5 separate regions of the Homo sapiens genome follow, and all the other regions are linked to region 5. Evidence: fine-mapped expression QTL. A gene starts in region 5. Each other region holds a variant in brackets. All regions are shown on one strand. Distances are between the middles of the regions.

Region 1 (5,108 bases), 360 kb before region 5:
CCCTCCTCCCACCTCAGCTTCAATGAGTAGCTGGAACTACAGGCATGTGCCACCACTCTGGCTAATTTTTATATTTGTAGTAGAGATGAAGTTTTGCCGTGTTGCTCAGGCTGATCTCAAACTCCTGAGCTCAAGGGATCTGCGAACCTCAGACTCCCAAAGTGCTGGGATTATAAGCATAAGCCATAACACCTGGCTTACTATTTTATTAAACAGAAAATACTGAGCAGAAAGGGGACATTTCATTATGAAAGATCCTGATTTTGTTTATTGCCTGATATATTGTGCTGCAATAAAGTGAGATACATATTAATTGGCCCCAAATAGAATATTTTAAAGATTTAATATTTGGTTTCTGTAAGTTTTTTAAAAATATTTTCATCCATATCAGTTCAAACTTCTTGCTAACATCATTTTGCCTCCAGTAGTCCCTTTTTCCCCTCGCAATTTAGAACAAATCTACAAGTATTTGAGTAGCTACAATAGCAGAGTTACTAATTATTTTTCTAAAATTGAAGTGGAAATACAATTTTATAAGGAAATTTTTATTTGACTAAATAAAATTGACAAAAATGTGTGTAAAATAAAAAATAGACATGGTGAATTTTTGAAAGATATCTGTATATGGAACTTTGGAGGTGGTCTGAATTACAGAAGCTAGATGTCTTAATAGCTGAAACGTTCTTCTTAAAACTTCTTGGATTGCACATTCCTACCACTACATACTTCAAGCACAACAGAATATATAAGAATGTAAATTCTTATATTTACATACTATATACACTTATTATGTTATGCATATTATATCTCATATACACAAAAATTTAATGAAAGAAATAAAGAAAAATTGAAATGAACCTCTTTCCTATTTTCTTCTCATACCCCTACAGCTCATGTTAGAAACCTACAGGAATGTACACAGCCAGTTGGAAGATTGCCGTTTGTAAAACTTGGAGGTAGAGGCAAGCAGTTCTTGTTTTATATTGTTTTTTTGAGCGAATCAATTCACTAAAAGCAGATCAAAGACTCAGCATTGTTTCTGGAAATTAGAAAGAGCTTAACAAACTTTAAGGTAGTAGTTGTGGTTATTATTTTTGCTTAAGAAAACTTATGAGACTTTTTAATTGTGATATTTTTCCTGGGTTTCAGTTCTACTTGAGGAAAAAAAGTGACTTTAGGAGAAGCCAAAAATTCATCATTCTTGAGTAATGCATTTATTTTAAATTTTGACAGACTTTCCCTACCTACGGTATCTATCTCAGTCACACTGACATTGTTCTGATCACTCTGCCTTCCATCAACATTTGTGATTTTCTTGTTAGTTCCGTTCATATTTTAATATAGGTTTTGTATTTGCGTGTTTTTCCATGAGATAGTTCTGAAGGACAGAAAAGCATTTCTTTATTCTATACACTCCCAGTCCTGTTTGTAACATAAGCTAAAATATAAATGTTTTCTTAGTCAGGTTTTAAATTATAACAAGCATTTCTTAGGATGATGAGATACTATTGCTTTAGTGAGAGGCACACTTGACATTTATGAGAAGAAGAGAAAAAGGAAAGAAAAGGTATTCTCCTCTTTTCTCCATCTTCCATGCCTTCTAGGTTCTCAGCAAGCACTATCAATAAACCGTTATTTATTTTTAAAAGCTATAGCTCTTTATTAAAAAATTTCTGTAATAGTTTGCAATTTATTAAGTGTTTTCCTTTTGTGGTAAGAGTCCCATCAGTTCACTTAATGGTAGCAGAATGTTTTAGTGGAAAGAGAGATTGCTAGCTTCTAATACTTGAGTCTAAGAGATTTTTAGTCCTTTGTGTTTTGAAACTAGCATTTCCTTCTTTAATCTTCCACCCCCTCCTACAAACACACCCACTCAGAGCAGTCAGGTGTAAAATTAGAAGGAACAGAAATAATAAAAGAATGGAAAATATGAGATAACATTTCTAAAAATAATTCTTGTTACAGAAGCAGACCATTTTGAAACCAGTAAGAGGGCGTTAAGCCCTCTCCAGACTGAATTTCTCAATTGTCCTTCATGGGTGCTGCCATTAGTGGTAGACTGGGACCTTGCATTTCTCAATAACCTTCCGGTGTCAATCACCTGTGATTTTTTAAGATTGCCTAACATGTCAAATTTCTTTTTATATCCAAGTTAAGTACATGTTCCCACTGTACTTCCTTCATTGCTTCTTTCTTCCTCTTACTGCCACTCTTTACCCCTGCCTGATATGCAGCGTCAGCCTTTAGTGAAGTTGTGAAATTTGTAAATTATCTTTAG[A/G]CTTCTTCATTTTTTAGCACTTCCCTACAGCAAGTTGATGAGATGTCCTATAGGAAAATTATTAAGCTCGTTTTCTGTATTTCCTAATAATTACAACTGAATAAGTTGTAGAGAAGTGTTTTTTGTTGTTGTTGTTTTTGTTTTTTGTTTTTTTTTCTTTTTGAGACAGGGTTTCATTCTATTGCCCAGGCTGGAGTGCAGTGGCATAAATATAGCTCATTGCAGTCTCAACTTCCAAAACTCAAGTGATCCTCCTAAGTAGCTGGGACTACCGGCACACACCACCACGCCCAGCTTATTTTTTATATTTTGTAGAGACAAGATCTTGCCATGTTGCCCAGGCTTATCTCGAACTCCTGGACTCAACCAGTCCTCCCATCTTGACCTCCCAAAGGGCTATAATAGGTTTGAGCCACTGTGTCCAGGAGAGAGAAATTACTGGAAAAGAGAATTTAGATTAGAAAGAGAAAACCCTGTTTAATAACAGACACCATCCAAGAATAAGAAGCCTGACCCAGGTAAAGTGAGAACACAAAAGAGTTTCCAAGTGACTACTTAAAAGGGTAGCTGGGGAGGGTTTATGTAACACATGTGAGCTGGAACCCAGGAAGTTAAAAGACATATACATTGCACTGTACTTATTAGGATAGTAATGCATTCTCACTGAAAAAAGTAAAATAAGTCAAGAGTTGCAGGAAAAAAGGGAAAAAATAAAAACTAAAACATACATTTTCTTTTTTCTGTCCCCTGAAACTACAACTCATTTAGTGTGTATCAACTCACCCTTTTTCTTTTCTTTTTTTTTTTTTTTTTTTGAGATGGAGTCTCACTCTGTCACCCAGGCTGGAGTGCAGTGGCGGGATCTCGGTTCACTGCAACCTCCACCTCCCGGGTTCAAACGATTATTGTGCCTCAGCATCCAGAGCAGTTGGGACTACAGGAGCGTACCACCATGCCCAGTTAATTTTTTGTATTTTTAGCAGAGATGGGGTTTCACCATGTTGGCCAGGCCGGTCTTGAACTCCTGACCTGAGGTGATCCTCTTGCATTGGCCTCTCAAAGTGCGGGAATACAGGCGTGAGCCACCATGCCTCGCCCATCTCACCCTTTTTCTACGTTTATATAAATATATCATATTACAACAGCTAGAGGAATCATTGTCAAGCACAGTTTACTAGTCTTTTGTTCAAAACTTCCCTATGGCTTCCCGCTGCATGCAGAATACAAGGCAAAGTCCAGGGAGGAGTTGGCCTCCCTACTACAAATGACCTCATCCCCTGCCTCCCAACCTCACTTCCTCTGCATTAGCTGCACTATTCCTCAAGGTCTGGGACACACAAAACTCTCTCCAGGCATCAGGCCTCCTGCAAGTGTTGTTTCACTCTGCCTGGATTACTCTTTACTCCAGTATTCATCTTTATCTTTATGTAACCCCTTCATCTTTATGTCTTTGCTCAGATATCATTTTATCATTGATTTTTTGGTTTTCCTACTCTTACTGTTCTACCTATTTTTATAAAGGGATTCAAAACCTGTGTCACTGCTGCAACCATCTTCCCAGAAACTTACTGCTTGCTTGCTTGCTTTTAATTCAACCAATAGATAGGACTCATGCTAATATAATTCATGTTCTGAAATCTTTTCTTCCAGCAAACCCTTTTACAATTTCACTTGGCCTTAAGATTTTATCATGGAGTCATTCACTTGGCAATATCTTCCTTTTCTCTCCTTTTTATTGACGTTCTCGGCTTGCCATTTTTCCTGACCAGAGCCCCTCTGATGGTGATGAAGGGCAAGTGAACCCCCAAATTGAGACTCGGCATGGGAGGGATTTTGCCTCTGCCCAGGAAGGAATTCAAGGGCAATCCAGTGGTGTTAGACAGCAACTTTTTTTTTTTTTTTTTTTTTTTTTGAGACGGAGTTTCGCTCTTGTTGTCCAGGCTGGAGTGCAATGGTATGATCGTGACTCACTGCAACCTCCGCCTCCTGGGTTCAGGTGATGATTCTCTTGCCTCAGCCTCCTAAGTAGTTGGGATTACAGGCATGTGCCACCATGCCTGGCTAAATTTTTTTGTATTTTTTTAGTAAAGATGGGGTTTCTCCATGTTGGTCAGGCTCGTCTCAAACTCCCGACCTCAGGTGATCCGCCTGCCTCGGCCTTCCAAAGTGCGGTGATTACAAGCATGAGCCACCACCGCACCCAGCCTAGACAGCAACTTTTATTGAAGTAGCAGTGCGCAGCAGCAGCAGAGGTCCTGCTCCTAGCAGAGCAGGCCTACACCATAGCCCATGTGCCCAGGGAAGCAGCTCAAGGGCAGTTCTGCAGTCAAATTTATGCTCACTTTTAATTACATGCAAATTAAGGGGCAGGTTGTTCAGACTTTTCTAGGAAAAAGCTTGTATTTTTCAGGTCATTGGCTTGGAAAGGGGTGGTAAACTCTGGGTGTTGCCATGACAATGGAAAACTGAGATGGCACTGGTGGATGTGTCTCCTGGAGAGATGCTTTCACCTCTTCCTTGTTTCAGCTATTCTTCAATCTGGTCAAGAGTCGAGTCCCCACCTCCTACCTCAACTGTGTGTTTTGTGCTAGTCTTGCTGATTATGGATTATGTCTTTCTGTATTTTCCTTCCTATCAAGTATATCTGTTTCTGTGGAAAACTTTTCCCTAATGACAGATCCATTGAGGAAAAAAAAAAATCTCAAAAACTCACCTATTATCTTAATAATCCAGAGGAATGCATTTCAAATGGTGGGATTCAGACATCAAAAGCAGGCATTTCTCTTGCTTCCTATAACGTATTTTTTTGTACCTACCAGCCAAGGAATAG
Region 2 (5,108 bases), 70 kb after region 5:
TTTACAAATCAAAAGCAAACATGAAACACCAGATGGTTAAATTGAGTCTACTTAACCTAGCAGATTGATATGTTAATGTAGCTAGAGACAGATAGATATAATTTTTATATACATATAGTTTTCATATAGCTTTTGCAGTACTATTGAGAAAGTACCTAAATTGTTCTGAACGGAATCATTTTAAATGCACAGAATATCCTAGATCTGGGTTTCTCAACCTCAATATTTAGGGCCAGAAAATTCTTTGTTGTGGGAAGATGACCTGTGGTTATGGCATTTAGTTTAACAGCATCCCTAAACTCTTCCCACTAGATGCCAGTATGACCCCAAACCCCAGTAGAGACATCCAAAAATGTGACCAGACATTGCCAGATGTCCCTTGGTGAGCAAAGTCACTCCAGGTTGAAAATCATTCTCTAGACTCAAATAACCAAGTAGACAAGTTTTATTCTTAGTTAGCAGAATGTATAATAGACTGTGGATTCACAAAATATATAAATAGCATTTCTTTCCTAAAATACAGTGAAGGTGAATGATTTAAGGAGGCAGTAAACGTGTAAAATGTGAACAAAAGGAAGCAATGTTTGTAACACCGAATTTGCTCTGTAGCAAAGTTTATGAAAATATAAACGTATAAGTAGAAAGCTGGACTTCTGGAAAAATGCGTAGGGATAAAGCACATTTTCATGGAGGAAGGAGTGCAAGTATTGGTTTTTCGGAGAATCATGTTAAAATTGGTTTAATTTCTTACCTTTAAAGTGAGAGGCAACACAGCAGTTAAGAATTGAGATAAAGTGCCAGTCTGCCAGTTAGAATCCTGTGTCTCACTATTTTAACACTCTGTGCCTCAATCCCCCATTCTGTAAAAGGAAGATAATAGAAATATATTAGCTCTTAGCAGAAGTAAATGAATTCATATTTGTAAAGCACTTAAAACAGTACCAGGCAAAAATAAATGTCATCTAAGTGTTTGTTAAGTCTGATTGGGAGAATATAAAGAAAGGTGTACATAGTTTGGTGAGTGAGAGTAATGTTTTTCGGGTGGTGAAAAGACAAACAGAAAATAAGAAGTACTGGAGTAAATTCCAGTACTGAAGACACGGGCAGAGAAGTATCAGGTAAGATGGAAGATCCACAAATGAAAGGCGTTGATCTTGGAGAAAAGCTGTACCACTATTCTTCTGATAGTCCGTATAATAATCAAACTAATCCAGTAATTTGAAATAGAGAAAACAATTGTCTGACTTATATGTAATACCACGTAGGCATTAGGAAATGAATACAATTTTTAAGTTTTACCGATTTTTCTTATCCAACTGAAAATTTTAAGTTGTTCTGTACAGCCTCAGCCCCTGCTGAAATCCTGCCTTCAGATAGACCCAAACAAACTTCACAGGTGCCATTTTTGCCGGCCTGAGGGCTTCCTGTTATTCTAACTGCCTGGTTACCATAGGATATAGAGGAAGTGTCTGAAGTTCTCACTGCTAAACGGACTTTCCTCCTGTAGATCTCTCACACTACTTATGATTCTAAAGTTATTTGAATCCCTCTGATGTATTTTCCTTTCTTTGACCAAACCGTGCTGAAGTGAAATTGATTATCCTAATAGATTTCAAAATCTGAAATCACAAATAAATCAGTGATGGGTTGGCTAACATGTAGTTCCTCTCAAATTAGTGATCATCATATCATTTTAAAACTTAACAGTGAGGCTTAATAAGGATTTTGGTTTGGGTCACTTTTTTGTGTGAATTTGAGCGAATTATTTTTTTCTTCTCCTTGTATCTACTCCCAAACACACATAGCACCAGGCAAAGACCCTCTGAGGATTGCCAAAATGACTGAGTGAAGAAATGCCATGAGAAAGATTCAACCCACAATATGAATCATGAGAAAGGCATTAACACCCAAGCATTTATTGCCCCAGCTCCTCCACAACACCCCTCAAGATGGCTGTCCGTCTCTACTTGACTGTTTTCGTGGACTAAGACCTCATTCACCCCTAAATGCATTCT[A/G]TTCCTATTTTATGATGACTAGACCTTACCCATGAGGAAGTCCTTCCTTAAACTCAGATAAAAATGTGTCTCCCTATAGCTTTCACAAGATCTTCCTGTCCTCATGCTGTCCCCTGAAGCTCTGCAAAACAAGTCTCGTACTACTTCCAGGAGCCTGTTCTTCACATAAAGATAAACATTTTGTAGTTGCTTCTTTACCTTCTAACCCAGTCTTCATTTCTTGCAGTGAAAAATCTCCATTATATTATTTTCCTTGATATCTATAGTGATTGTTGAATCTGTCACTTTTGACAGAGAAAAGGGTGGGGACAAAAGTGAAAATCATGGGTCAGAAGTACAACTGGCATCAATCAATACTGCTGTGATATATGGTCAACTTATTCATAGGAAGCAGAGTGCTGGTGCATTTTAACTGCCTCTCTGGAGGAAATCAAAGGACTGATTTGTAGAGTTTTTCATTTCTGTGGTGTAAATACTCCACGCATGGCTGATGTCAGGTCACTGATATGAGGCTTCAGAATGTGGATTTGATAAGAGGTGTAAACAGTTAGCTCTTGTGAGCTAGTGGGAGCTGGCTCAGGCACTTAGAATTTGCTCAACACCTGGTTGTTCTTTGAATGTCTTTAAAAAATGTTATATATTTTAATTCATAATTATTGAGGTGCCGTTTGACCAGCCCCATATCAGTCCAGATTCTGTTCAAAATTCTACTTCAAAGGTTCCATTCCACTCAAAATTCAACTTCAAAGCTACTATGAGTGGAGGAAATACATAAAGTCATAGAAAAAGCTTCTAGCTTCTAATATTTGAGTCAGAAAAAAATTAATCTTCGATGACAGTGCTAGAAATAAAATTGGGGAAAGCCCGTATATCAGTGTACATTATAATTTAATAATATCTATATGCACACACACACGTAATACAATTATTATATGCCACTAGGCCATAAAGGTTTTTTTTTTTTTTAATCAAAGGGAAAAGAAAGAAGATTTCAACTGCTGTCTTGTTAAGAGGCATATGGCAAAAATGATTTATCTTAAATTTTTAAATTGTTTTCCTATAACTCAGCATTTAAGTCCTTATGATAAATTAATAAAATGTTATGAATATTCAAGTTAGAACTGTACTCATGAATAAAATTATTTTTATGTTTAGCCTTTTCCACACTTGATTGACTCCTAAATTCTTCAAAGCACGAATATGTTTGCTTTTGTTCTCCAGTGAATCCATTCTGCAGTAGTTACTTGTTGAGTCACATTTCCCCAAGGGTGCAATTTACACCCTTACTCTATTCATACTGAACCAAACTCGTTGAGACAAACTGTGTTCACACTGAATGAGAGTTACTAGGAAAATTTTTTTTAAATTATTACTTGGCTGCATCCTGGGATCTAAAATGGGGAGAAGTATGAGGTAGAGCTGGAGTGGTAAGCAGCATCTGGTAATTCATGTTAAAGAATTTGTATTATTCTAGGAAAGCATTAAAGAGCTTTGATCAGGAGACTAACACAATCTGATTAGCATAAAGATAAAACACTGAAGATCTGTATTTAAGATTCTGGCTCTAGTGTTGAGAACAGATTGGTCAGACAAGTGAGGAGGAGGTCATAACCTAGGAAACAGATTCAAGAGGGACTTGGAAGTCAGAATCAACAATAATTAGAAATCCATAATGAAGGAAAGAGAAGAAAATGGAGGTGAAGGAGCAGAGTAGAAGGATGGGAAAGAGTCAAGGTTCTTTGCAAGGAAAGAGTGGATACAGATGCAATCAGGTCTATGGATGGTAGACAAGAAGTTTGTGATTTTATTTTCCCTGTTAAATAGGGGTAGTGGGTAAAGGAGACAAGAGTAGAGATTTGAAGAGAACAGAAAATATTTGAAATAGTCACTGTAGAAAAATTGAAAACTATGCTATATGGGGCTGCGATGAGGGCCTGTTCTTAGTCACATTTCCTTGAGAATCTAATAGAATATGTATGTTTTTAAAAAGCATTCCTGGTGCTCCTGATGGAGCTCTTATTTCTCCATCCTCCTGCTCCTGACCTCCTCCTCTAATTTCTACTGAAACTCACCAAACAATATAAACACTTTTTGATTTAAAATTTTTAATAAGGTAACTCATTCCATTCTTGGTTCCTAGTTAGACCCCTAAATGGCCTTTCTAACAAAAACAGTGACATTCTCACAAAATATTTGCTCCAAAAATGTTTGCTAGAAACTTCCCAGGACAAATCCTGACAAGAGTGGGGAGACGGGGGCGCATGGGTTGTGCCATTGACATGTCCTTTGTGTGGATCCCCGTAATGCAGTGAACGAACAAACCTCCCAGTGAGGTCATGTCTCGTTTGGGGTTGAACGGCTAACTCTGTATCTGTGATCACATTAACAAAAGTGCACATAAAATGCCCAGGAATTTTTCCTTTGTGTGATTATGAAATAAAACTTACACAATATCGTGTCTGCAAAATGAGCATTTCACCATGGAGATTTCTTTGATTGTAATAGGGTTCAAAAGAGAATAGAGAAAATTTAATATGTTAGGACATGTTACCTCTTCAGTTGGCTGTGTCACGTACCTTTCTGCACTTCTGAAGTATCATATTTTAAATGTAGGTTGGTCTACACTCTAAACAATAAAGTTTATATCCAAAAACCCTGACCAAGTTACTAGCTGTAACTTGCTTTACCAGTAGAAGCTGTTGAGAACACTGAGGCAGAAACTCTAATATCCATTCACGCTCGCTCTGAGATGCTTGATTCTCAATAAAGGAGAAGGTTGTTATCACCTGATTATGAAGAGAATGACTTAATTCTTCACCCCACTTAATGTACATATTGTCACATCAATAGTACAAAAGATTGTTAATTTAGAAATATAGGCACCTATTATGATGTAATAATAATGATAGTTATTATTTATTGAATAAGCATTACATATTGGAACTTTGGTAATTGTCTTACAGAAATTATCCTTTAATTCTCAAACAACTTTAGAAGGTAGGTGCTAATGTTACTATAAAAATTTTTAAATAAATTAAAAATTAAATAAGTTCATAATACTTTTCCATGCTTACAAGTTGAATAAAAGGTATT
Region 3 (5,108 bases), 130 kb before region 5:
TCAGAATGTCACACTCTCCATCTGGTCTCTCTAGCAGGGTAGCCAAAATTATTTACATGGTTGATCAAGACTCAAAAAAAAAGTAGCGTCTGCCAAAAGTCTTATGGCCTAGAAATATAAATACAGGAAGAAATACATGTAGGAATTTAATATATGCTAAATTCTATGATCTGAATTATTGAGTAAACTGATATACTTTAGTAAATGATGTTGAAGCCATTAATTTATCATTAGGAAAAAGAAATCTAGCTGCATCAAAGATTATAATGTAATAATTTAAAACGTAACCATAAAAAATACTTTTTTTCCTCACAATGTGATAGAAAGTTTAAACTTGAAATTTAAAAAAAAGACATAAATGAGAACTCTAACTAGTTTGACAGAACTTATAATATTCAAGCTGTAAAATGGATACCAAAACCTGATACTCCTCCTCCACTTAGGATGGCCAAATCTGTAAGAAAATGTTGCTTCCACCCTAAGAAGGAGAAAAACAAAGGCCAGATAATTTATAAATCATAACCTTTTTTTGAGTTTATTAGAGACCAGAAGTTGCACAGCAACCAGGTGAATTGAATTCCAAAGTGTAGCAGCTAACAGCCCCTCTGAGGAGAGATGGAACAAAAGAGCAGTTGAGCACAGTATGAGAGGGAGAAGGAGCCCCCATAATAGCAGGTAAGAAGAAAACAGCCAGATCTTTAGTGAGCTCAAAAAGCCAACACGATAGTTAGAATAGCTAGGAGCCCCAGGCTTGCAGGGAGTCCACACTCCCGATTTCCTTTTCATGAGACTCTTCTACTGTGCTCTTGGGAAAGATTAGGGGCAGGGCAGGAGACCTAAGAGAGGAGAGCCCTCCTCAGTGGCACTCAGCATGAAACCTCACCCTTGAAATCCCACTTCCTTGAAACCTCTCCTACAAAGTGAATGTCTTGTCATTGTGGTAGGGTAGGCAATCTTCCTGTCCCCAAGGCTCAGAGAAAAACCCACCACCTCTGAAAGAGGAGCAAAACAAGAGCCATCTGCTATAGAAGGACATATGCTACCAAGGATAGAAATCCCTGCTGCCCACAGTCCTAATCAAAGGTAAAAGACAGGAAGAAAGAAAAAAAAAAAAAAACAGTACGGAGATAAAGCAGTCAACAAAATGAGATTTAGATATTATTAGGCTGATGTATGTTAACATATCTAATGGGAAACGTGAACAACATGTATGAACAGATGGGAAAGTATTACAAATAAAATAAAATGGAAATGCTAAGGGGAAAATAAACAGCCTAACATCAGAAATAAAGACGTGTTCCATGAGTTTATCAGCAGATGTGATGATGATCAAGGAGTCAAAGAACTTGAAGATTGGTCACATATATTATCCAAACAGAAAAAAATAGAGAGCTATAGGAAAGATTAAGGAGTTCAACATATACACAATATCAGTCCCAATAAAAGAAAAGATATTTGGAGAGAGAAAGACAATGAATTTCCTAATTTTAAGGGAAAAAAATTAAACCACAGATTGATAAATTTCAGAGAACTCCAAGCGGTTTTTAAAAAAAGATGCAGACACTTCATAGCCAGAGCGCGCAAAACTAAGTATAAAGAGGGAATCTTATGACAAAACAAGACTAAAGAATCATTACATATAGAAAAGCAAAGATAAGAATAGTAACAGATTTCTTTCAGAAACTGTATAAGCCAGTTTAAAGATGGAACAACATCTTTAAAATTGGGGGGAAATTTCAATCCATAATAGTTAATCACAGTGAAAATATCTTCCAAAACTGGAGGGTCTGTAAACCTTTTAATTTTTTCAGATACACAAAGACTGTAAGATTATATTGGTAGATTCCTGTATTATAAAAAGGTCAATGAATGTTACACTAGCAGAAGATTATAGAATCAGATGAAAATTTTGACCTATTCAAAAGGAAGAATATCAGAAATAATTTTTTAAAAGAGGATTTTTTAAAACCAAAAGCATGGTATTGTTTGTTTACTATTTATGTACTCCTTAAAGAAAAATTGGATTTCTAAATAAAAACTACAATATGTTGTGGAGCTTATCCCATTTTTAGTAGTTATGATGCCAATAGCATGAGGGATGGGAGGGAGAAAATGAAAATCTTTTAAGGTTTTTTGTTTTATGATAAATGGGATGATATTAGAAAATAAATAACAAGTTAAAGATCTATATTTTAAATAATACAGCAACTGGAAAATACATAAAAAGAAGAAATAAATAAGCCAATAATGAAAATTAAGAAAATTATAAAAATTCTTAATGCAAAATAATATGGAAAAAATGGAACAAAAAGACATAAGACAACAAATCAGTAGCAAGATAGTAGATTCAAATATTATATCAACAATTACATTAAATACTCAATATATATACACTCCAATTAGAAAACAGAGATTGTCAGATGGGAAAAACAAAGACTTATTATGCTGTCAATAAGACAGTCACATAAATTGTTTAAAAGTAAACAGATGAAAAAAGATCATGCAA[G/A]TTCTAAGCAAAGGAAAGCTAAAGTAGCTCTATGAGATCAGAAAAGCAGACTTCAAACTGTTACAAAATTTAAAAGGTTCAGTACATATCAAATGTACCATTGTGGTGTGAGACATTGACAGTAGGAGAGACTGTTGTATGTGTGGGAACAAAGGGTACATGGGAACTGTCTGTACTTTCTGTTCAATTTCGCTGTGAACCTAAAGCTGATTTAAAAAATAAAGTTTATTAAAAATAATCATGAAGAAGGAACCATGCATAATGATAAATGGGTGAAAAAATGAGTAAGAGATAATATTCCTAAATATGTGGGTACTTAATCCCAGAACTTCAAAATATATAAAGCAAACACAGGTAAAACTAAAAAAGGAGAAAGAGACAAATCCACAACTATAGTTGGAGACTTCACCACACCTCTCTCAGAAATTGATAGAGCAAGAATATAATAAATTAATAAGGAAAGAGAAGATCTAAACCACGCTATCAACCATCTTGACCTAATTGAGGTTTATAGAAAAGCACTGCACCCAGCAATAGTACAATGGACATTATTATTAAGAGCATACTATTTACCAAGGCAAAACATATTCTGTGCCTCAAAACAAAGCTTTAAAATGTACAAGAATTAAGACTATACAAAATATGTTCTCTGAACTACATGGGAATCAAGCTAGAAATAAATGAGAAAGATATTTGGAAAATACTAACATTTTGTATATTAAACTACCAAACTGTAATGATACATGGGTCAAAGAAGAAATCACAAGAAAATTTAGGAAACAGTTAGTTGAATGAAAATTGAACAAAATATCAACATTTGTGGGATGCAATCAAAGTGATACTTAGAAGGGTATTTACAGCAATAAATGCTTCTACTAAAACATAAAGATTCAAGTCAATGATCTAGGCTTACCTCTTAGAAACTGAAAAAAGAAGAGCAAATTAAACACAAAGTAAGCAGAAAAAAGAATACTAACATTAATAGAAAAAAAAATCAAAGAAAGAGAAAACACACAAGGAATAAAAAACAATAAAACCAAAAGCTGTTTGAAAAAAATCAAATGATACACCTCTATCCATACTGATCAAGAAGTATAATAATTTACAAATATGAGTGCTGAAAGACTGCATATTGCTACAGATCTTATTTTAAAATGTCGATAAGGTGACATTACAAAAAATGTTTGTGTCAAGAAATCTGATAACATATGAAATGAATGAAGCATTTGAATTATGCTACTATCAAATCTCACTCAAGAAGAAATTGTCCCCATTAAATAAATTAAATTTAAAATTTAAAATTTTCCCACACAGAAAGCTCTAGGCCCAGATGGTTACACTGGTAAATTTTAGCAAAACATTTAAGGAAATGCAATAGTAATCAGACCAATCATATAGACACACACACACACAAAAAAAAAAACAGGAAGAAACACTCTCCAACTTATTTTATGAGGCCAGCATTCCCCTGTTAAGAAAACCAATCAATGACATTATGAAAACAAAACATAAGCCAATGTTTTCCCTGAAGATAGAAATATTTTCATATATAATTTTAGCAAATTGAATCCACCAATAAATATAAAAAGATAACAGAACATACTGGCATTGATCTCAGGAATGCAAAGTTGGTTTAATATTAATGAGAGGAATCAGTGCACTAGACAGTGTAAGCAAAGTAAAAAGAAAAACTACATCGATACGTGCAAAATAATACTTAACAAAATTCAATGTCTACTTATTAAAAAACTTTCAGCAGACTAGAAACAGACTGAAATTCCTGAACTTAATTAAGGACATCTATGAAAAACCTACAAGGAACCTCATACTTAATGTGAATGACTGAATACAATCCTCCTACAATGGGGAAAAAGCCAGGGATGTTTACTCTGCCCATTTTTATTTAACATTGTACTGGAGGTTCTGTCACTGCAATAAAACAAAGAGGATAAGTAAAGGCAATAGATTGGAAAAGAAGAAGTAAACCACTTTGTTCACAGAACACATTATCATTTACATAGGAAAACAACAAAGAATTTACAAGAGAGCTACCAGGACTAAGAAGTGAGGTTAACAATGTTTAAGGATGAAAGATAATATGCTACATTTCTATATATCACCATAAACACTTAAAATGGAACCCAGAACAGCATCAACAATTACAATAGCCTCAAACTCAGGAAATAATTAAAAATAAGTTTGACAAGAGATGTGCAAGATTTAAATGCCAAAACTACAAAACATCGGTGCGAAGAGCTAATTGTTAAAAAGGTACATATATGAAAAAATAATCACATATTCATTGATCAGAAAGAAGTCTCTGTATGATTAAGATGCCATTTCTCCCCATTTCAATCTACAGATTGAACCTAATACTTTGAAAAGCCCTTCCAGGCTTCTTGTGACAATTGACAAGCTGATTCAAAAAAATCATGTGGAAATACAAACGACCTAGAATAAGCAAAACCATTTTGAAAAAAACATTTTAAAAAAAGTTGGAGGAAACCCAATGCCTATTTCAAGGCTTAGTATAAAGTTGCATAATTAGGACTTGGTGGTAGTAACACTGTAATAGACATACATGTTAATGGAACAGAATGAT
Region 4 (5,108 bases), 36 kb before region 5:
GTTTTAATGAAGAGCATAGAATTATTCATGACCCCTTTTTCCAGAGATTAGCACTGTCAACATTTTGCTATATTTTTAGAAGAATCTCACACAAACACACACTCACACATAATATATTGTATCTGATATTATATTTTAATAATTTTAATTATAGAACTAACTCAGATCTGTTTTCTCTTTTTGCTCATATGAAGAATTGTGAGGACATTTGAATTGTGTTTATGTACCAGACTACAAAGTACAGAGTCTAAGACTGGTGAAATCATATCCTAAATATAGTTGTCTTGTGAGAGGGCTGGAATAAATAACTGCATTGTAGCTCTGCCCTATAACTCTTCTTGGAAGCTCTGTGTTTAAAGAGTAAAAAAGGCCAAGAGTGCTAGATGAACAGATGATACTAGCTACCTAACGACAAACAGTTACTTGGAACATGAGGTTCTGTCTACACAATCATGTTTTGCAAAGTGAAAATTGTGTATGACTTCCTACAATAATCTAAATATGTAGATGCAACTAATTTCTTACTGTATTAACTAGCGGAAAAACTTAAAACCTTTCAGGATTTTAGTCATTGGGGCTTGAGATTTCCAGAGAACATAAAAAAGAAAAATCAAGCCATGCCTTTGATGCAAATTCTATAGCAATAATGCAAACATAATATTCCTGGGTTGGACAGAATCCATGGAAAACAAAAAGAGAGGAACAGATTGCTATAATTAAGGGTGCTAATATTCTGGTCATTTTAATTCACAGGATCTGGATCTGGTTTGGTTTGGATAAGAAGGTGAAAAGTAGTAATATTGCTTTAAATCTTAATACTTCACTGCTGGAAGATGATACTTCCTCTTTCTTTAATGCAAACTTCTTTACAGGCAAAATATGACACGTTCATTTTTTATTGCAATAAATAAACCCTTATAGGACCAGCCACAGTGGCTCACTCCTGAATCCAAGCACTTTGGGAGGCCAAGGTAGGTGGATCGCTTGAGCCCAGGAGTTTGAGACCAGCCTGAGCAACATGGCGAAATCTCGTGTCCATGAAAATACAAAACATGAGCCAGGCATGGTAGTGTGTGCCTGTAGTCCTAGCTACCATGGAGGCTGAGTTGGGAGGATCACTTGAGCCTGGGAGGTTAAGGCTGCAGTGAGTCATGATCGTGCCACTGTACTCCAGCCTGGGCAACAGAGTGAGATCCTGTCTCAAAAACAAAACAACAACAAAAACAAACCCTTATGCTCACAGTTCAAAGAGTCTCGTTTGCTACCAAATTGGAAACTGTGGTAAGCCCATGACTTCTGTAGGTTTTGGAATACCATAGTTTTAAAATGATATGTATAATCTGAGGGAAAAAGTTGATATACCTATAAATATTTGTTTATAAAAATAGATATTATACTTCATTTAACATTTGAGAAATAAGTCACATGAGGCCAGGCGCAGTGGCTCAAGCCTGTAATGCCAGCACTTTGGGAGGCCAAGGCGGGCAGATCACTTGAGGTTAGGAGTTTGAGACCAGCCTGGCCAACATGGTGAAACCCTGTCTCTATCAAAAATACAAAAATTAGCCGGGAATGGTGGTGCATGCCTGTAATCCCAGCTACCTAGGAGGCTGAGGCAGGAGAATCGCTTGAACCTGGGAGGCAGAGATTGCAGTGAGCCAAGATCGTGCCACTGCACTCCATCCTGGGTGACACAGTGACATTCCATCTCAAACAAAACAAAACAAAGAAATAAGTCACATAAGTCACATTGTTGAGCCCAGAATGCCAGACATATTCTGAGACGTGTGACTAGAACAAAGCAGGAGATGGCAGGCCCCTGAGGTACCCCCAGTTACCCTTGGGTGGGTCCTCCATGTTTTTCCTAATGCCTCTTTCCAGTTAACCTCTCTTCATTAAATTACATCAAAAGCACAGGTTTTTCCCACATGAGATTATGTAGGGGAAGTTTAAATTAGAAACTTTTAAATTTGTGCAACTGGATTAGAAATTTCACAATACGAGTCTTACCTCTAAATACTTCTTGTTTCTGGTAAGGCTAGAACTTGTCTTTCTTGCCACATTTTGGCACTTCCAGTATTCAATAGAACCAGGAAGTGTAACTGAATATGAAAACAGGGTAGAACAGAAAGAGAAAGAAACAT[G/A]GAACATAATTTCTGATCGTTGATGTAACTTCGCCCAGGGGCATGGGCAGATGTTTGAGTAAATTCTGACATTCTGTGATCTCGGGAACTCCATATCTGCCTTAGAATATGAGTATGAAAATACTGTGATATGTCTAATAAAGAATTTGACTCTGGGGAAGGTAGGCTCATACTCAATTTAAAGACAGTCCTTTTGCTAAAAAGTAAAGCATTCAATTATATGGATACTGCTAGAAATACATGCAAGCATCTTTATATTTGTTTCTCATAAATAAACTAATAATATGTAGGCGAATGTTTGATAATGTATGTCTGACCTAAAAACACCTTTTTGACTGGTTTGGAGCTTTTCAGTTGCTACAATAGATACTCTGAATGACCTGAAAGAGTTTGGTCCATGTTACAATTTCTTCCCCCTTTCCACAATATATGGCTTTCCCAGGAAAAAATTTCTCGTAAGGATCCACTGTTTTTTATTTGTTGTTGTAAATTTTGGCTGGAAGAATCAGACAATGGCATACCACGGCTGGGGAGAATTCATCCAAAACCTCCCTGCTTAGGGACCCAAGAAGGCTATTAAAGAAAGGCTTAGAAATTTCAGCAACATAGCTCTGGGGCAGTGCACCTTTCCAATGACATTTTCACTAATGTGTTGCCATCTTCCATTTTCCCAGGATATAGTTTCCTTCATGTCTGCATGAGGTTAGGAAAAAAGACAAGGTGCTACCAAAAAAAAAAAAAAAAAAAGAGTTTATGTTTCTATAGCATCTGTTTATGACAGTGTATATAAATAAGAAGAGTTTCCACCCCAGTACAGGACAAGGAAAAATACATCTTTTTAGGAGTTGGCTTTCTGCAAGTGCCACTAAATGAAAGACCGTGGGGGTGGAGCCGAATATAAATGCAATGTCAGAACAAAAAAGAACCACCTACAAAAATCTTTCCTTAAAAAGCATCCATTCCTAAAGAAGATGCATGGCATGTAGGCTCACACACAGATTTACTACCTACCCAACCCAAAGTGGCCTCTGACAATGGCTTCTTCGAGAGAGAATTTTAAAACTTGAGGGTTTTCTTTTGTTGTTGTTAAAAAAAAAAAAAAAAGCAAATTACATGACTCTTAGATATTTTTTGCCAGTCTAAATATTTAATAGGAGTTGGCATGGCAGGGCATGTCATACTACTCCTAAGGTGATGCATTTTTGCAGAACAATTTATTTGAGAATCAACGTTCAGCAAGACAAGATTAATTCCTAAGACCCTCAGCTGTTAAGAAGGGCATCAATCATTCTGCATGTTTATTTATATTAACATCTTGAAATAGATATTGTTTTTGTTTTGCACACATATATAAATATTTAAAAATATGACTACACATATGCATAGGCATATGTGAGTATAGTAATATTTTTGAATGCATGGGTGTGCGAATTGGATGGGATGCTTTTCCATTTACAGGCTCCATGGCAATGGATGCAGGAGTATACCATCCCTGGCTCCCTGGCAATAAATATTAGAAATACCTTCCATGGTTGTGGCTTCCAAAAACATCTTCACATATCCCCAAACACTTCCTGGAGAATGGTAACGTCCTGGTTGAGAACTGTTCCATGAACCACTGACAAGCAAGTTGCAGACTGTTTCATTTTGAAGTACAGGTATCTTGAAGCTGGCTTCACTGCTTACAGCATTGTCTCTGTGTCCAGGGGAGGTTTGCAGAGAATTTCTCCATCAGAGAAAAAAAAGTTCAAGTTCGAATTATGGTAAAACTATAAAAAAACAAACTGGAACCTCAAACTTCAACCTAGATAGATGACCCTTCCTTTTTCGGTATTATGTTTTGACGTTTAATGAATTATTTCAAACATTTTAGAAATGTTAGATTTTACTTTCTAAATTTTGTAGATTTCAAATTTCTTTAATGTGGTTTAAAAAATACTCTTCCATTGTATTCTGGGAAAGACAGACACAGAAAATATTAATAAATTAGGGTTGTCTAAAATGGGAGAAATTAGAACCCCTACAATGTAGCAAGCATTGTATTAGATGCTTTGTATAAATTTTTTCTTTGTATCCACATACCAGCCCTGCGTGGCGGATGCTATTATCACCATTTTACACATGAGAAAACTAAGCCAAACGAAGTTTAGGAAACGCTATAAAGTATTAGTAAGCTCTATGTCACTTTTAGAATGCATGGGTTTAAAAGTTAAAGTGTTTCTAACTTTGACACCAATAAAAATATTTATTTTGACACTAATTAAAATGTAAATACATATTCTCCTATCACATTCTCATGGCATCCAAAGATAGCCCCTTCACTGAAATTAGATTTGCTTCGGTTATTTTTAATGATTGCTCAAAAAAGTGTGAAAGAGAAATTATATCTGTTGACTATTCTAGGGCTTTTCAGGAGACTTAGACTATTGCTGTATGTCCTGTGAGTTAAAGATAGAACACAATGTACTATTCTGGCCCAGATGTAGATACACCCAGAATATCACATGGACTCTAGATGTTTGGTAGAAAAACCAAAAAAGGAACAGACTGCATCTATATGTGGCAAGAGTGTAAACACGGTAAAAAGGAAGGGTAAATGATGGACAGCCACTTGCTTGTCACTGCCTGCTCTCCCTCCTCCTTCCCTCCTTTTTTCTTCCCTTCTGTCAATCATTCAAGGAATATTTACTGAGCACCTAGTTAATATCAGGCTTTGTGGTAGTGTCAGTTTGCCCTCTCCCACAAAAGGTTTCCTACTCAGATCATTTTCTCAAATAATCTTTGTCTTCTCTCTGCTCTGGGAGCATGACCTTAGTTTTTCTGATCTTCTCTCTCTGGTCTATCACAAGTTCTGTGCTCCATAAGTACTTTATTGTTAGTTTTATTTTCATTAGTCTGATTTTGAGAACTGCAAAGAGAATCGCTGACTTTCTGCTTATCCTCCGCTACCTCCCTTAAGACCTT
Region 5 (5,108 bases):
TGAGATGCAATCAATGAGGAGTAGATGAGAACACTAAGTGATACAAATCCAGAGAATTGAAATTTGATTTGATGAACAATGTGTAAATCTCCCTTCCAGCCAAAATATTTAAGGGTCTAGATGTAAATTTCATGGACACAAATAATCATTTTTATCCAGGCCATAACCCATGATGTAGAAAGTATTTTTGGGAAATTGAGAGGTTACATGTGGTGCTGTTCATGTTAAGACTATTTATAGGCTGAGCCAAAATTAAGCATAAGCAATGGAAAAAAATAGTTCAGCGTTTTAAACTTAGGTAGATGTTAAAGGAGAAAGAGCTATGGATAAATGTAAGGTCAAGGAGATCACATGGTACAAATGGGGGATCTAAATTGCTTTGACTATATAGGTAATACTTCCAATATGGCTTATAAATAACTAAAAAAAAAAATCAAATGAGAGTAAATGTGTCCTGTAATATGGTCATGGTGTGCAATAAATAAGAAAGTTTCTAAGGATAGGAAATAAAGATAGCAAAAGAAAACGTACTGGGCTGAGAGAGAGGTCTGCTAATGAGTGTTTAGAGCAGCTATTCCCCAGCTGACGCCATATAGAACAGCCTGAGTGTGCTCTGGGCACATGTTGCTATGTGAGCACAACTGCTAGGAAAGCAGCCTCTTAGAAGCTCAATAAACATGAGGGAGGAGGAGGGGGAAGTGGGGAGGGGAGGGGGATACCCATCTATCTACGTGTGAGCCCCCTGTCTAACATTTATACTCAACGACACTTGGCTTGTAGCACTGCTCAGCATTTGCATACGCTGAAAAACAGACATGTTTGGTAAATAAAAATATACACTTAAAAAAATCTGAAACACTTAATCTGTGCAGGTAGCTGTTTTCAATCTTTCAGGCTACGCAAAAGTCATACAAGGACGCTACAGCTAACCAGAGATTCTACAACTCAGGAATCCAAAGGATGTAGAAAGACTGTGTTCTTTTATTTTTTTTAAAAGCAAAATTCACATGAGTTTAGATCAAATATTTCTTATGGAGACCAAGAACATTAAAAAATAAAGTGTCATTAAAATATGAGAGAGGAGGAAGCTAAGTAAAATGGCCTTGACCTTATCCTCACCCTTTCCACCATGCTTCAATTAACATCTCTTACCCCTTCTGAGCACCAGGATTTTTCCAGATAATGGCAAATAGAAATGAAACATTTGGAAGTGAGCAGGAAAACGCTAACAAGTGTACAGATAATGTACAGCAGACACACAACATTGGTTGGCGAGAGGAAATCTGGCAGCCTATTGATTATTAATGTGAAAAGAAAACAAATGATAAAACGCAATATGGTTTCTTTGCATATCCGAGGTTTTCAAATAACACCTTATTTCCTAACAGGTAAAATCTGAATTTATGAAAATCGTCGGAATTCACAGCCTTTTATCCTAGTGATCATCCTATGATATCCTTACCCAGACACAGACATTAAACTGCCCATTCCCTATCCCTATTTTTTTTCCAATTGTCATGATGAATCCACGCTATGATGCAATCTTTTTGCAGAATCAAGTCGTTTTGACTATTTTGCTTTCCTAAAACCACACTGTCTTCAAGCCAGGTATTAATACCATTATTACTGAAAATAACAAATTGGTTAGGGGAGAGTGATATGTAATGTGAAAGTTTTGCGATCCTCAGGCTCAAATCCAACTCGGGCTCCCGCTCTTCTTTCAGGAAGGCAACTTTGAGACACTCACTCTGTTTGAAACTCACAGCTATACTTGAAGCAATGACGAAAAAAAAAAAAAGCCAAGGATCAAGAATAGTGCTGAGTCCCAAGCTTTGCCAAGGTTTAAGACCAGGGCTCAAGACGCACCCCCAAACCCGCAACCACGTTTTCTTTCTTTTTTTCCCCACTTAGAGTGAGAACCGAACACAGACGCTCTCGCCCTTGCCTCCAAACCCAGTATCTCGCTACAGCTGGTGCATTGGAAGTTATGAGCACAAACAGATGCTGCAGAGAAATCTGTTTCTATTGCTCAACTGTTCCAAGCATGTCTCAGTATTTTTAGCTCTGGGGATGTTCTGGTGCGCACACAAACTATATAGGCATGATCTGGGACTCCGGAGTGTGGGTGAGCGCTACAGCAGTGTGACAGCTGGGCACCTCTGGAGCAGCGGGGCAGGGTAGGGTAGGGGACGGCGGCCAGAGTCCATTCCCCAGGACACACCGGCAGCGAGCGAAAAGGAAGAAAACACAGCAGCCCTTACCTGTTGCTGGCGCAGGAGCATGGGGACATGGAGTGGAAGTGGGGGGTACAGAGGCATGTAAGATCCAGTGGTTTGTAAAAAGCGAGTGAGCCAAAGCAAACCAGAATTCCCAAGACCCAGCCCGCCGGCGCCGGGAAGGCTGCGCGCTGGCCAGGGCTCCAGTGCGCTCTGCAATATCCTGGGCTCTTTTGAGGCGGTCCGTGCGACACCGGCTCTCCTGGCCCCGCCCCCGGCCGCTGCCGGCCAATCGCAGCGCGCCTGGCCGCGCGGCCGGCCCCGGGAACCGCGGCGGGGAGGGGAGGATGCTGCGAGGCGTTGCCAGCGGAGGGAACCTGCCGCCGCCTCGTCCCCCTCCACCCTCGGAGCCCGGCCGGGGAGTCGGGCCCGGGCCGGGGAGGAGGAAGTTGCGGCCCAGCTGGGACAGCAGCAGGTGGGAAGCTCCGCGCCCGGCTGTTGCGGCTGCCTGATTGCAGCCTGGCCTTGGGCAAAGCTTCCTACTCCGTCTGGAGCCCCACACACTTCCCGGTTCCCCCGCTCTTGGGCCGCTTGCCCTGCGTGCTCCTCGAGGGGCCTGCGAGGTGCCAGCGCCGGGTAGAGACCTTTGCCGCAGGGGCAGGATTGTTCGTCGGTCCCGGCGCGTCTCCCTCTCCACTCCCTCTCTGCCGGAGCCCCTCGGCCCTTCGAAGCCCCCCGCGGAGGCTGCAGCGCCCGGAGAAGCCACTGAGTCAATGGGGCGAGGGACTGGGGCGGGCGCGCAGAGCCCCCAGGATTGAGACGCGCGCAAGTGCGGCCACTGCAGCGCCGCTTGGCTGTTTGTTCTCCCGACTGTTCGCGAATTACTTACAAGGCGCCTAGGCTTCTCCGAAGGGTGGACGGCTCGTTCCCTCTCGCCTTGTCCGCCCTCAGTCTCTCCACCACCGCCCGGCACGCTTTGCTGATCTAAAATCAGAACAATTAGAGAGTAATGATTTTTTTTGGAATAGCAACTCCTACAGACACTCAGATCTGCCCTCGCTTCAGCGCCTCCCAGCCCTCCTTCCCAGCAGCCAGGCGAGAGCGCGCAGACCCCTAAAAAGCAACTTCAGTGTTAACCGGGTCTGGATCCTGGAACTTTATAAACTAATCCGTGTGTGTGTGTGTGTGTGTGTGTGTAAACCGAAGAGTAAGTGCCTATTATTTCTGAGTACTTCGGTGTCCTAACGAAGCTTTGCTCCTAAAGGACAGGATATATTTTAGGAGTCTTTCTTTCCACTGAGTTTTTTAAATGTTTATTTTCTCGAGCGATCAAATGTGTCTTTTGTGCAGTTTATTTAAACCTCGTAAGGCCTCCTTGAGTCGCTGAACTAATTCAGCAAACTAGCTGGTATTGTGGACGGCGCAGTCGGGGTGGATTTTTGTGTGTAGGAGAGGTGAAACTGACAATTCAAGGAAAGGTTCTGTGCGAGTCCCCACCTCCCATCCTCATATCCACACGTGGCCCCTAGGAGGTGCTGGTGAAATATGCTTGCTTAGGTTTCGCAGATCCGCACTTACTCCTGCCTTAACAAGTGTGCCTTTTTTCTTAGCACTGAGCAAGGTACTTAAATTAAAAGGGTGTGCAAGAGATGATGCACTCGGTGTGGCTGCTCTGATAGCCAAATGGCGATGTGGTCCCAGTTAATGTGTTGAGATTATACTGTTCACCAAGCCCTGTTACGAACTCTGTTGCCATGCACGTGGGAATAATGCCTGCCCCAAGGGAGGTCTTCTTTAACATCTATTTAGTCATGTGTTATTTATAAACAGCTTGAATTAATACTGTAAAATAGACGGATGTCTAAGAATCTAGGCTGTAGCCTAAAGCTAAATGAACCTGAGGGTAGACAAGTTCACTCTGTATTAACCAAAGGATAATGAATGAGTTCACCGCTCAGTTCAATAAGCTTCTTCTGAAATATGCTTCCTCCTGGACTTCTAAGAAACAGGCCAAAAGTTTAATTATCCCTTAAAACATGTTAAGCCTAAATAGAAAAAGGAAATTAATCATTTATAGATTTTCTCTTCTTTATTATGATTCAGTTGGTGCATCTGTAGATGGCTAAGAATTTTCCAAACCACGTGAATTCAGAGAGGCAACACTTTTGTTGTTGTTGTTTTTCCAGGTAATGAGCTCGCTTTGAAAACCAGTCACTCGGAAAGGGATGGCATTTTTATGCAACTTGGATTGAAATGGTTTTGCTTTAGTATTCTACTCTAATTAGAAAGAATACACCACAGGCCGAAATAGTTTCATATGATAGGAAAATCTTTAAAGAAAGGAACACAGAGTTATTAGATTATGGTTGGCTGTATAAATTTAGCTGGGCAGCGGGAGGAAGGTCATAATAAATGTATCCTGCTCTCTCTCATCAATTATCAGCAGCACATCCCCCAACATTCTCTCCTCCCAAAGACTGAAGGATGTGCAGCAAAGCTTAGATCTTGAAGGAGAAGGTTCGGGAAAAATTAATGATTTTAATTAGAACTTTCCAATCTAAGTAGAATCATTACCTTAATTAGCTAAATAAGGAAGTATGAAGGATGAAATTTTGCAAATGAAATTTTGTAAATGTATGGTAGCGTAGAATACCCCCATTGCTTCATTTTAAAAAAAGAAAATATAAATGCATTTTAATTAATAAATGACTTTTCATCATGTCCCTATTAGGAAAATTCTGTGTGCCAATGCTTTCAGTGTTTGATTTAATACATCTTTTGAAGTGATGCGTGATGCAGATTTCTGTATTCAGAGTCTATCTTTTTTGGCTGAATCAGGCCTTATTTAGCAAAAATCCCCATTAGTCTTGGACACGAATGCAATTGGGTGTT

Direction of the effects. Positions count from the first base shown, and alleles are read on the strand shown. Sizes are in standard deviations (SD) of each study's normalised expression. Not every link is listed here.
As copies of A replace G in region 3, the expression in monocytes after R848 of the gene that starts at base 2,431 in region 5 goes down (small effect, 0.38 SD a copy in Quach 2016).

Evidence for each region. PIP is the estimated chance that this variant, and not a neighbour inherited with it, causes the effect.
Region 1: its variant is fine-mapped to the expression of KCNJ2 in blood mononuclear cells (TOPMed, PIP above 0.99).
Region 2: its variant is fine-mapped to the expression of KCNJ2 in whole blood (TOPMed, PIP above 0.99).
Region 3: its variant is fine-mapped to the expression of KCNJ2 in monocytes after R848 (Quach 2016, PIP 0.95).
Region 4: its variant is fine-mapped to the expression of KCNJ2 in whole blood (INTERVAL, PIP above 0.99).

Annotation. Positions count from the first base shown.
Region 1 is chr17:70,524,592-70,529,699 of GRCh38, reverse strand. No RefSeq gene overlaps it. Among named protein-coding and RNA genes, the nearest start is that of KCNJ2, 360 kb to the right of the region's middle. The variant A/G (reference allele first, on the strand shown) is at 2,279.
Region 2 is chr17:70,096,410-70,101,517 of GRCh38, reverse strand. It overlaps KCNJ16 (potassium inwardly rectifying channel subfamily J member 16), which reads right to left. Exons shown (of 4, transcript NM_170741.4): 2 at 752-860. Among named protein-coding and RNA genes, the nearest start is that of KCNJ16, 24 kb to the right of the region's middle. The variant A/G (reference allele first, on the strand shown) is at 2,016.
Region 3 is chr17:70,299,954-70,305,061 of GRCh38, reverse strand. No RefSeq gene overlaps it. Among named protein-coding and RNA genes, the nearest start is that of KCNJ2, 130 kb to the right of the region's middle. The variant G/A (reference allele first, on the strand shown) is at 2,507.
Region 4 is chr17:70,202,574-70,207,681 of GRCh38, reverse strand. No RefSeq gene overlaps it. Among named protein-coding and RNA genes, the nearest start is that of KCNJ2, 36 kb to the right of the region's middle. The variant G/A (reference allele first, on the strand shown) is at 2,145.
Region 5 is chr17:70,166,855-70,171,962 of GRCh38, reverse strand. It overlaps KCNJ2 (potassium inwardly rectifying channel subfamily J member 2), which reads right to left and starts at 2,431. Exons shown (of 2, transcript NM_000891.3): 1 at 2,262-2,431. KCNJ2-AS1 (KCNJ2 antisense RNA 1) reads left to right here and starts at 2,561. Exons shown (of 1, transcript NR_036534.1): 1 at 2,561-5,002. RefSeq lists a silencer at 2,376-2,835.